Homo sapiens: one gene and its partners. The protein of the gene in region 1 interacts with the protein of each later gene in a pairwise test. Each region holds a gene or a part of one and is shown on either strand. Other genes may lie near its edges. The genes, in order: CD33, BMP10 and HERC3.

The links.
Region 2: the proteins of CD33 (region 1) and BMP10 interact in binary tests that used the Homo sapiens proteins (3 or more experiments, as listed by UniProt).
Region 3: the proteins of CD33 (region 1) and HERC3 interact in a two-hybrid assay, tested with the Homo sapiens proteins (one large-scale study listed by BioGRID and IntAct).

Annotation. Positions count from the first base shown.
Region 1 is NC_000019.10:51,234,988-51,237,861, forward strand, and holds part of CD33 (myeloid cell surface antigen CD33 isoform 1 precursor), read left to right. Parts: intron 1-169; coding exon 170-266; intron 267-530; coding exon of another isoform or gene 531-607; coding exon 608-689; intron 690-835; coding exon of another isoform or gene 836-844; exon of another isoform or gene 845-979; intron 980-2,874. UniProt on the Homo sapiens protein: Sialic-acid-binding immunoglobulin-like lectin (Siglec) that plays a role in mediating cell-cell interactions and in maintaining immune cells in a resting state.
Region 2 is NC_000002.12:68,864,843-68,868,498, forward strand, and holds part of BMP10 (bone morphogenetic protein 10 preproprotein), read right to left. Parts: intron 1,730-3,656; coding exon 789-1,729; 3' UTR 1-788. UniProt on the Homo sapiens protein: Required for maintaining the proliferative activity of embryonic cardiomyocytes by preventing premature activation of the negative cell cycle regulator CDKN1C/p57KIP and maintaining the required expression levels of cardiogenic factors such as MEF2C and NKX2-5.
Region 3 is NC_000004.12:88,654,884-88,658,539, forward strand, and holds part of HERC3 (probable E3 ubiquitin-protein ligase HERC3), read left to right. Parts: intron 1-290; coding exon 291-421; intron 422-991; coding exon 992-1,152; coding exon of another isoform or gene 1,153-1,190; exon of another isoform or gene 1,191-2,551; intron 2,552-3,531; coding exon 3,532-3,608; intron 3,609-3,656. UniProt on the Homo sapiens protein: E3 ubiquitin-protein ligase which accepts ubiquitin from an E2 ubiquitin-conjugating enzyme in the form of a thioester and then directly transfers the ubiquitin to targeted substrates.

The DNA of each region.
Region 1 (2,874 bases):
TACTTCATCTCATGGTCGTGGTCAATATTGATGTCTATGATGGGTGGGAAGATCTAGGAGCTAAACCCCATTTTGGAGGTGAAGTCACCCCTCTCTACATGCTGGAGAGGAGGATACACATACCTGTTTATCTAGATTAGAATTCACCCCAAATCTTTTTTGTCTGCAGGGAAACAAGAGACCAGAGCAGGAGTGGTTCATGGGGCCATTGGAGGAGCTGGTGTTACAGCCCTGCTCGCTCTTTGTCTCTGCCTCATCTTCTTCATGTGAGCATTTTCTCTGGGTCAGGCATGGGCCAGAGGTGAAGAGGATGGACCTGGTGTAGAAGGGTCCTGGAGGGGCTGTGAGGGCTGGAGAAAGGGCAGGGGGTGTGATGATGTACAGAATCCAGCCTGTGGCCACTGGGATAGGCGTGGGTCTATTCCAGGGCCCTGATCTCAGATGTCCAAGGAGTGGGAGGTAGAGGGAGACCTTGTGACTAAGTCTTGTTTGAGGGCTCCTGGATTAATCCCACCCTTTACCTGCCAAAGTCCCTCATTCCAGGCTCATAACAATGGCCCCACAGCCTGAGAAAACCAGGCTCAAAGACCCTGGTGTCTCCCATCAGAGTGAAGACCCACAGGAGGAAAGCAGCCAGGACAGCAGTGGGCAGGAATGACACCCACCCTACCACAGGGTCAGCCTCCCCGGTGAGTGATGGGGCATCCTGGCATCCAGTCTGTCCTGCAGACACCTCCTCCCAATGTGGCCCACCGTCATGCCCCATTCAGCATTTCCAGAACTGAGCTTATTGTCTTTCCTCCTGTTTAACAGTGTAGGTTTTAATATTTTTCAGGTACGTTGAGGCCAACAGATCAGGAGATGATGGCCATTGAAAAGATAGTTTCTTGGCCGGGCACAGTGTTTCACACCTGCAATCCCAGCACCTTTGGAGGCCAAGGCGGGCGGATCACGAGGTCAGGAGATTGAGACTATCCTGGCTAACATGGTGAAACCCCGTCTCTACTAAAAATACAAAAAATTAGCCAGATGTGGTGGCTGGCGCCTGTAGTCCCAGCTACTTGGGAGGCTGAGGCAGGAGAATGGTATGAACCCGGGAGGCAGAGCTTGTAGTGAGCCGACATAGCACCACTGCACTCCAGCCTGGGTGACAGAGAGAGACTCTGTCCCAAAAAGAAAAAAAAAATAGTTTCTTATTCACCGTTCCCGAGAGGGCACACCACACCATGCAAGGCCATATGGAGAAGCACCAGGGTCAGTCAGGAAGCAGAGGGAGCAAGGAGAAAATGGGACAAGAGCCTTCACTGTGGCTTTCATGGAAAAGAATGGGCAAGACAGGGTAAGCAAGCTAGGCAGGTTTAGGATTGGCTACTTAGAACAATTTCAGCAGACTCTGGGGTATAGGAGTTGTCTCTAGTTGTCTGGTACATGGCCCTGGGTTTATTAAGGAGGATTGTGGTCTGGAGTGTAAGAGCTCAATAAAGGATCCAGCTGGTAGTGTGGGCTTTAGATTGACTGGTTTGCACATGAAAGGTGCACTTGTATGCAAGTCCTTTATTAGCTCTAGAAATCTACTATCCTTGGGAAAGGCAGTCTCTCAAGGGTCAGTAATGCCCCAGATGTCAAAACATCAGAAACACTTGGTTGACACACCCCTAAACATACTTCTCCTGATGGGTTCTCCATCTCGCTGATGGCACTCTTGTCCCCATTACCCAACCAGAGACATGGCCCCCTCCTGTCCCAGTCCTCCATCTCTTCCTGTGCCAGTATGCTACGATGCATGTCTGAGCTTCCTCTGAACACGGCTTAACACAACCACTCCTGAGCCGAGAGCCCCTCTTACTCCTTATTCTGCTGCAGCCTCACCTCCCATTTCTCCTCTCCAGAACATTAGCATCACCTCCCTAAAAGGTCATTGTCCCATCATTCCCAAGTTTGAAATGCACTGCTTCTCTACACTCCTGAAAGATTGGCATTCCAACAACTTGGTCTGGCATTTGGAGCAGGAAAACCAGAGTCCCCTTCAGTGCTATGCTCCCCCAACATTAGCCACTCAATCACCTCAAGCAGGGCAAGCTTTCTCATCTCAGAATCATTGCTGGGCTGTCCCCTCCTCCTCATATGCCTAATAGCTACCTGCCCAACTCCAGTGCATCCTTCAAGCTCTGATTTTTTTTTTAATTTATTTAACTCTGACTAAAGTGAACACCACAGTAAAGTTTTTGAACACAGGGTCAACCAGCACCCATTCATTCTGAAATATCTATATAATCCCATTTGCCAATTGCTCTAGGTCCTTGTGCCATTCTGTATTTTTATAAACACACAGTTTACAAATATAAAATATTCCTCCTATCGGGGGCTTAACATTTATTGGGGAAAGGGATGAAAATAATGAACAAATAAGCAGTGCAAATATACATGAAATAGGCATGAAATAAGTGCTATGGCAGGAAATGAAATGGGAGAACGGATTGGACAGTCCTGGGGGCCAAAGAATGGCCTTTGGGCAAACACCTGCAGAAAGAAAGTGAGTACAGTATGAGCAGTAGAGAATCATCAAGGAAGCAGCAAGTACCATGGCTCTGAGGCCGGAACACATCTGATGTTTTAGAGAAACAAAGTAGGACAGTGTGGATAAGGCAGAGTTACGTGTTGGGGGTGGAGTGTGGACTGAACAATGGTAGGTAGGAAATGAGGTTGAAGAGACATAGGAGCTGCAAATATTGCAGGATCCTAAGTCCATCATAGTTATTGATGCGTTTAGAGCAGAAGAGTGACATGAACTGACACTCATTTTAGTGGGAGTCACTCTGGCTGCTCTGTGAGAAACTCTAGTATGTAGTATAGAAGAGAAGATACCAGAATAGA
Region 2 (3,656 bases), on another chromosome or scaffold:
CCTCCCAACCCCTCTACTCTCTGCAGCAGCAATGGCCAGTACTCATGGCCTTGCTTTCCTATTGTCTCAGGAACAGATTTCATGCTGGTTTCTTCTGTTTTCCTGCCTTGACCAGGAGTTGCCCTCTGGAGCACATTGGTCCTCCATGGGTTCATTTTTTCCTGTTGTACCTCTAAGACCTCTTAAGTCCATTTGGTTTCTGTATCAATTAACCCTTCCCTTCAAGCATCCTTTGCCAGGCCCCTCCTCTCTGAGCAACTACAGAAACTCAACTGACAAAAGCTACACTTACATTTCCAGAGTATTTAGGAAGGGTAATACTTCCTAGGATGATTAAAACCCTGATGTCAATTATCTTGACTTAAATCCTACTCAGAGAAGAGGTAACAGAGAACATACCATTGGCCTTTAATATGCATACATTTGAGTGAGTCATGCATGTAGATGAGTATAACCTGCCTGCATAGAACCAAAAGATTTTTGTAAGTTCATGTATGTACAAATATACATACACAAGTGTGTGTCTTTTGACACTGTATTTTGCCTAGGGGTTGTTTTCAAATCAACAGGGAGGTGGCATTGCCAGGAAATGGCAAGTCCAAAGAGAAAACAGATTGAAAGGGACTTAACTGGAGAGGAAAATATGCATTTCCTACAACAAACTGACCTGTCCATTTCCTGAAGGCAGCAAGCCTCTATTACTGTACACCCTTATTAAATAATCTCATTAAATAGGAACACCAAATATACACATTTACAGTTATTAAATAAGCCATAGGACTCTTCTTCTATCTACAGCCACATTCGGAGACGGCCATGCCTTCGTATTTAAACTTGTAGGTGACGACGCCTTTGTCTAAATAGAGGATGGAGATGGGCTCTAGCTTTGTGGGCACACAGCAGGCTTTGGAAGCTTTCTGGGAATTCTTGAGGTGGACCAAGGCCTGGATAATTGCATGCTTTGTGGGTGTGAGATGCTCTGCCAGGGGGTAGTTACAAACACCACGGCATTCATAGGCTTCGTATCCAGGCGGAGCGATGATCCAGGAGTCCCACCCAATCTCCTTGAAGTCGATGTAGAGCGGGGTCCTCTTACAGTAGTTTCCTTTGGCGTTCCTTCTGATTCGGGCAGTGGAGTCATAGATGATGTTTGATCTCATCTGCAACAAAGCCTCTTCCCCAGGTCCACTGGAAAAGCTATCCAGGCCCAAGTTGTCCAGCTCTGGAAGTTGCTCATGGGAAATCATTTCATTCAGTTCCTCCTTCCTCTCCTTGTCACTGCTTTGGTCATCAGAAAACACGATGAGCAAAGGGTTATGCTTATTCTGGGCACTGGTATCTATTTCTAGCCGTCCACTGCTGGCATCCTCAGCTTCATCGTGTTTGCTCTCAATGTGGACCTCCAGCTGGTGGGTGGATGAGCCTGACTTTTGCCAACGTCTGATGGCATCTGTGACATCAAAAGTCTCCCACTCACTGTTGGTTCCATATATCTCCCCAGACACCAAGACCAGCATGTTTCTTTCTCCCTCATTATCCCCTTTGCTCTCCAGCACTTCAAAAATGGTAATTTTCCGGTCTACTCCATCGTATATCATACGATCCCTTTGCACCAGTGTGTATAGCCTAAGTTCAGCCATGATGACCTCTTCATGGTGAGGAATGGACACATTGAAGAGGAGGGGGTATTTTCGGAGCCCATTAAAACTGACCGGCTGGGAAAACAGATCTGAAAAAAGAAATTTGCAAAAATCAGGTTTGCAGTGGGTCTCAGGGAAAAACAGATGCTTATTTATGTAATAAGAAGGCCTTCCCATGCACAAAGCTTAATGCAGAAAGAATGAAGGGAGAAAATCAATGAGAACAAACACAATGTCAGCATTCTGTGACACAGGAAATCCCAAAAGGTCAGTGGTAGAATGCCCAAAAGAGTTCAGCTGCCAAGACTAAAATGGAAAATGGGGGTCTAATGGATGGCATAAAACTCAGCCAACCTTGCTTGAATAGCTCATCAGCCACAGAATTACAGAACTGGGAGGGACCTTGGAGATTGTGTGGGCAAGTCCCCAAATTTCCTAACAAACAAAACGCCACCAAATGGGACATGTGGTGATTGTTCCTTTCTTGAAGCTTTTCGGGGATGAGGACTTCATGGTTTTTTAATATTTGTGTTTGTAGTGGGTGGAGATCCCCGCACAGTTGGCTGGACACTGGTCTTCCTAAAAGACCTCCATTTAGATCAGAGGTTGGTAAACTATAGCCTATGGGCCAATATGGGCCTGCTACCTGCTTTTGGAAATAAAGTTTTATTGGAACACAGCCTCATCCATTGTTTTTGTATTGTCTGTGGCTACTTTTGCACTATAATGGCAGAGTTAAATAGATACAACAAAGAACATATAGCCTGCAAAGCTTAAAATAGTTATTATCTGTCTGGCCCTTTACAGTAGAAACTTGCTGACTTCTGTTCTAGGCAACAAAGCCTGACAAGGCCAATAAGACAGCCATAAACCAAGAGGGTCTCAGCAATTGACTGCTGGTTATATGGTTCTCTATAAAGAGGAATGGGAGAAAATGAATCCTGGGACTAGATTGGTTGCCTTAGTCTTGTACCCCTAGCACCTGGCATGGGGCGTGACATGTATAACTCACTCAATAATGTTTATGAATCAACTCTGTAAAAGTCCTTTAGTCTTAGAAGCATACTTCCAAATACGATCATGTTGACTTCCTATCTGAATATTTCACAGTGAGCCCAAAGCTCCTGCACACTTGCCTCAGGTAATGAGTCTACAAGGAAGCCCTGAAGGCATTTGCCATCAGATTATCAAAGGACTCCATGGCACCGAAGATGCTAAGGACCACCAACTGGGGGTTCTCTGTCATCATTGGCAGCATTTCCCCAAGTTTATACTTAGTTCATGATCTCGGTGAGTCCCTGTTTCAGATTATAATCTTTTAATATTTTTCTTTAATTTGATCTAATTATTTTATACTTATTATCTATTTTAGACTGTTCCTAAGCAACATAATTCATTAAAGGAGAGATTTGAGGTGATATTTATGTGTGTTTGCTAAAAATCCATACTAAGAAAAATATACAATAATTTCACATGATTAATAGCTTTCTTTGGGTACCACCTAAATTAATCTTACACACTGCTAGTGGGAAATGCTGACCTACAGAATAAATTTAAACTCCCTGGCATGGCTCTCAAGACCAGCTATATCTGGGTCTTAACCTCCTGATCAGCCATAGCTTACATACGTCCTCCACAGTGCATGGAACATTGTGATTACTCAATAATATTTGTGAACAATTGAATGGATTTGTAAACCCTTCTGTTTTAACTACATTGATATCTTTACCACCTGTCAAAACACTCTTTTTTTCCCTGCAATTTTCACCTTTTCACATGTTCTTCTGACCCTTGGAAAGCCCTTTCACCTCACCTCCACCTATCCAGCTCTGACATCTCCTATAAAAGCCTCCCTTACTTCTCATCTGAAAGTTCCCTCCTCTCCCCTCTGAAATCATTTGATCACTTTATATCTCCTTTGATCCTTGTCATTTACGTCCTTATATTTCAGCCATCTTTTTATGAATGGATTTTCCCAACTAGATTGCCATCCTCCTGGTTTGAATGGCTCAAAAC
Region 3 (3,656 bases), on another chromosome or scaffold:
TTTAAAATTTTGCTTCCTAACACATCATTGTACTTTCAAACGATTTTAAAAATTTACAGAAGGCACACATTCCTTTGAGCATTGCTATCTTTGTTCCATAAAGATGCAGTCTGAAATTCCCTTTTTATTATTTTTCTATTTAATGAACATCCTTACAAAGTGATTTTGGCCAAGTGTCAAGTGAATGTAGTGCTCTTGTGCACATTGTTGTGATAGGCATTTTGTATACAGGGTTTAGAGGTATACCCTTAAAGATACAGTGAAGTCCTATGGTGTTTGTTCCTTGTTAGAGTGGAGGTGTGTTTACCTTTGGCGCTGGTTCCTGTGGGCAACTTGGACACGACTCCATGAATGATGAGGTTAACCCTAGAAGAGTTCTAGAGCTGATGGGTAGTGAAGTAACTCAAATTGCTTGTGGCAGGTGAGTGTTCCTCAAAGCTTGCTTGTATTCACTAGGACCCAGAAATTGGTCTTATCTTTGTAGTGATGAAGAATGTGATTATACCTAGTCACCGTCATTTTAAGAGATCTTAACTGCATGCACGCCTATGGTGAAATGTGGAGAAAGACCTTGATAGAGTGTGGCAAGGAAGGGTTTTAGATAAGCAGAGCAACACGGAGACATTAGGCTTCTTTTGGGATAAAGAGTAGCAGGATGTGGGGAAGGGATAAAGAAAGGAAAAGTGAGAGAGTCCCAAAGAACTTCTTGGAAATTTTTGCCTGAGTCTACCCTGCTTCTCTCTGTTCATCTTAGAGGCCACATGCAGTAGATCATTCAGCTCTTTCCTGACTTGCCACCCTCCTCATGATCTAGAGTGTTAGAGGATAGTATTATGGAGAGCAGCCGCTGCAAGAAGAGTCACGTGTTAACATGGGAAAGGCTCTATAGGAGCACCCTGTGCTGTGCACATGTGGAAGTTAAAAGTCAGAGTCAGAGTGTACATCCACATTAGTAGAAACTATGCTGATGAGTTAAATTATTTTTTCACAGACAACATACCCTAGCCTTCGTGCCTTCTTCTGGACTCATCTATGCATTTGGTTGTGGAGCAAGAGGTCAATTAGGAACTGGGCACACTTGTAATGTTAAGTGCCCATCTCCTGTCAAGGGTTACTGGGCTGCCCACAGTGGCCAGCTTTCAGCCCGAGCTGGTAAGAATGATTGTCTCTGGAATTTAAAGGTATTTTAAGTGATGAAAACAGTTGTTTACAGAATATGTATCTATTACTTACTTTGAGGTCTTTTGGAGGGAATGAAGATAAGGTATTTTTTAACATCAATTAATAATTTCTGTACTTACTATGCATGAAGCTGTAGAGTTGAGATCCTAGAGAATAAATAAAGCAGGAAATACTGTTGTGTTAGGCCGTTCTTGCATTGCTGTAAAGAGCACCTGAAACAGGGTGATTTATGAAGAAAAGAGTTTTAATTGGCTCACAGTTCTGCAGGCTCTACAGGGAGCATGATGCAGCCATCTGCTTGGCTTCTGGGGAGGCCTCAGGAATCTTACAGTCATGGCAGAAGGCAAAGAAGGAGCAGACACTTCACATGGCAGAAGCAGGAGCAAGAGGAAGAGTGGAGAGGAGGTGCCATACTTTTTACACCACCAGATCTCATGTGAACTCAGAGCAAGAGCTCACTTATCACCAAGGGGATGGCCCAAGCCATTCATGAGGGATCCGCCCTCATGATCTAAACACATACCACCATGCCTCACCTCCAACATTGGGATTACTGCAATTCAACATGAGTTTTGACCAGAACATACATTCAAACTATACCAGTTATTTTGTTTCCACAGACCTTGGTGGTGGTGTATACATTTTATTGTTGTTGCTAATAATGACAGTTCGCATGTATTGAATGCTTAATGACGTTTCATTACTATGCAAAGCACTCAAAATAATCTAAGAACTAGTTAGTGGTTATTATCCCCATGTTAGAGATAAGGGAACAAAGTCTTAAGGAGGTCAAGTAATTTGCCCAAGATCACATAGATTCTGGAGGCAGGATTTAAACCCAGGTCATTCTAAATCATGTGTACTATGTTACCTCTACTTTGCTGTTGGCATTTTGGTATATAACATGATGTGATTTCTTTTTAAGCCATTTTTTTTCTTCCCTTAAAAAATAGTTAAATAGCAGTCTTGGTTTCATTGGAAATCAAAGTCAGGCAGTCATTAATATTGAATGACTGCTTCACCTTGAAATAATAAATCTGAGGCTGAAATGGAGCTAGAGAATCATTAAAAGGAAGTGTAACTTATTAATTTTGATTTTGAAGTCGATAAAGTGACACACTTATGGCTTGATCAGGAATTTGTTTGAAACAGTAACCATCATAAGTTTTAGTACTGGATTATAAGAAACTCAAGGACACAGACAAACTCTTTTCCTTTTTGTAAACCTAGCATATAGCACAGGACCTGGCATGAACTTGTCACTCAGTAGACATTTTTGGAATGGATATATGAGCATCTGAAATGTAGTGCAACTTAAAATATAAATAAACAAGATTTTGTCTGGGTGATGTTCCCAGAAGCAAAAGAATGGCTTTGTGTCCTCTTCTCTGTAATTTGTAAATTCTTTTCTCCAAGACATTGTACTCATACGTGGAATACATTTATTTAGAAAGTTTACCAACTCAGGTGTTTTTTGGTTATTTCAAAACCACAAATTTTTGAAGTTGAATTATAACCTGACTTCCATGGTCCTAAATTTGTGCTTGGATGTTTGCCAAAATGATTTTATAACATAAGCAGGTAAATGTCAGTTATGTAAATGACATGGTTTTAGGAACCCTCTTGGTAATGTGGGAGCACAGAGGAAGGCATGGAGGAGTATTGTGGTTAGAGGAAGTTTGAGCTGTGCCTCGAAGGATGATTTGGAGTTAGCCAGGTGTAGAGGACTGTGAGGGAGTTGGTGTGAGCACCACCAAGGTGCAGTTCCAGAAGCACATTCAGGTTGTGCTCTCGGTGGGCACATTCATGGAGAATCCCATGTGCCAGGGGCAGCAGAGGGGGGAGGCACCGAGATGTGAAATAGTGTGGTGTATTAGAAATAAAGGCAACGTGGTAGTAGGAGAATGTCACCGTGGACACAGTGTGATGGGAGGTAAAGCAGGGAGCAGGAAACGGAGGTCCTTCCGTGGCAAGATTCGTCCTGACGGGGCCTGGGCCCACCACACTCACATGCTGAATTGTTACCATAAAGAATAGTGCCCATTTCAGATTTCAGGTCAGTGGCATGACAGAGTTAGAATGAAAAAGAGAAACTAGGTCAGGATTCACTGGCAGTTGGGGAGGGGCAGAAGAAGAGTTAGAGTGGAGGATACCATTTTATATATTTATTTTTAATTGAAGTAGAAACAGTCCTAGGCAGTGAGCCAGGGGAGAAGATTTCTTACTTCTGTGACACAATTAAAATGGATAGGTACCCACTCTGAAGTGTATTCTGCGACAGTAGAAAAGGGGATCAAGGAGAAACTTCAATTAATGAAAAATATGCTTTCGGAATTTTTTTTTTGACAGATCGCTTTAAATATCATATCGTTAAGCAGATCTTCTCTGGAGGAGACCAGACTTTTGTACTTTGCTCCAAATACGAGGTAAAATTTTTCTTGTGACTCTTATTTCCAGGAAGGAATAATAGTGAA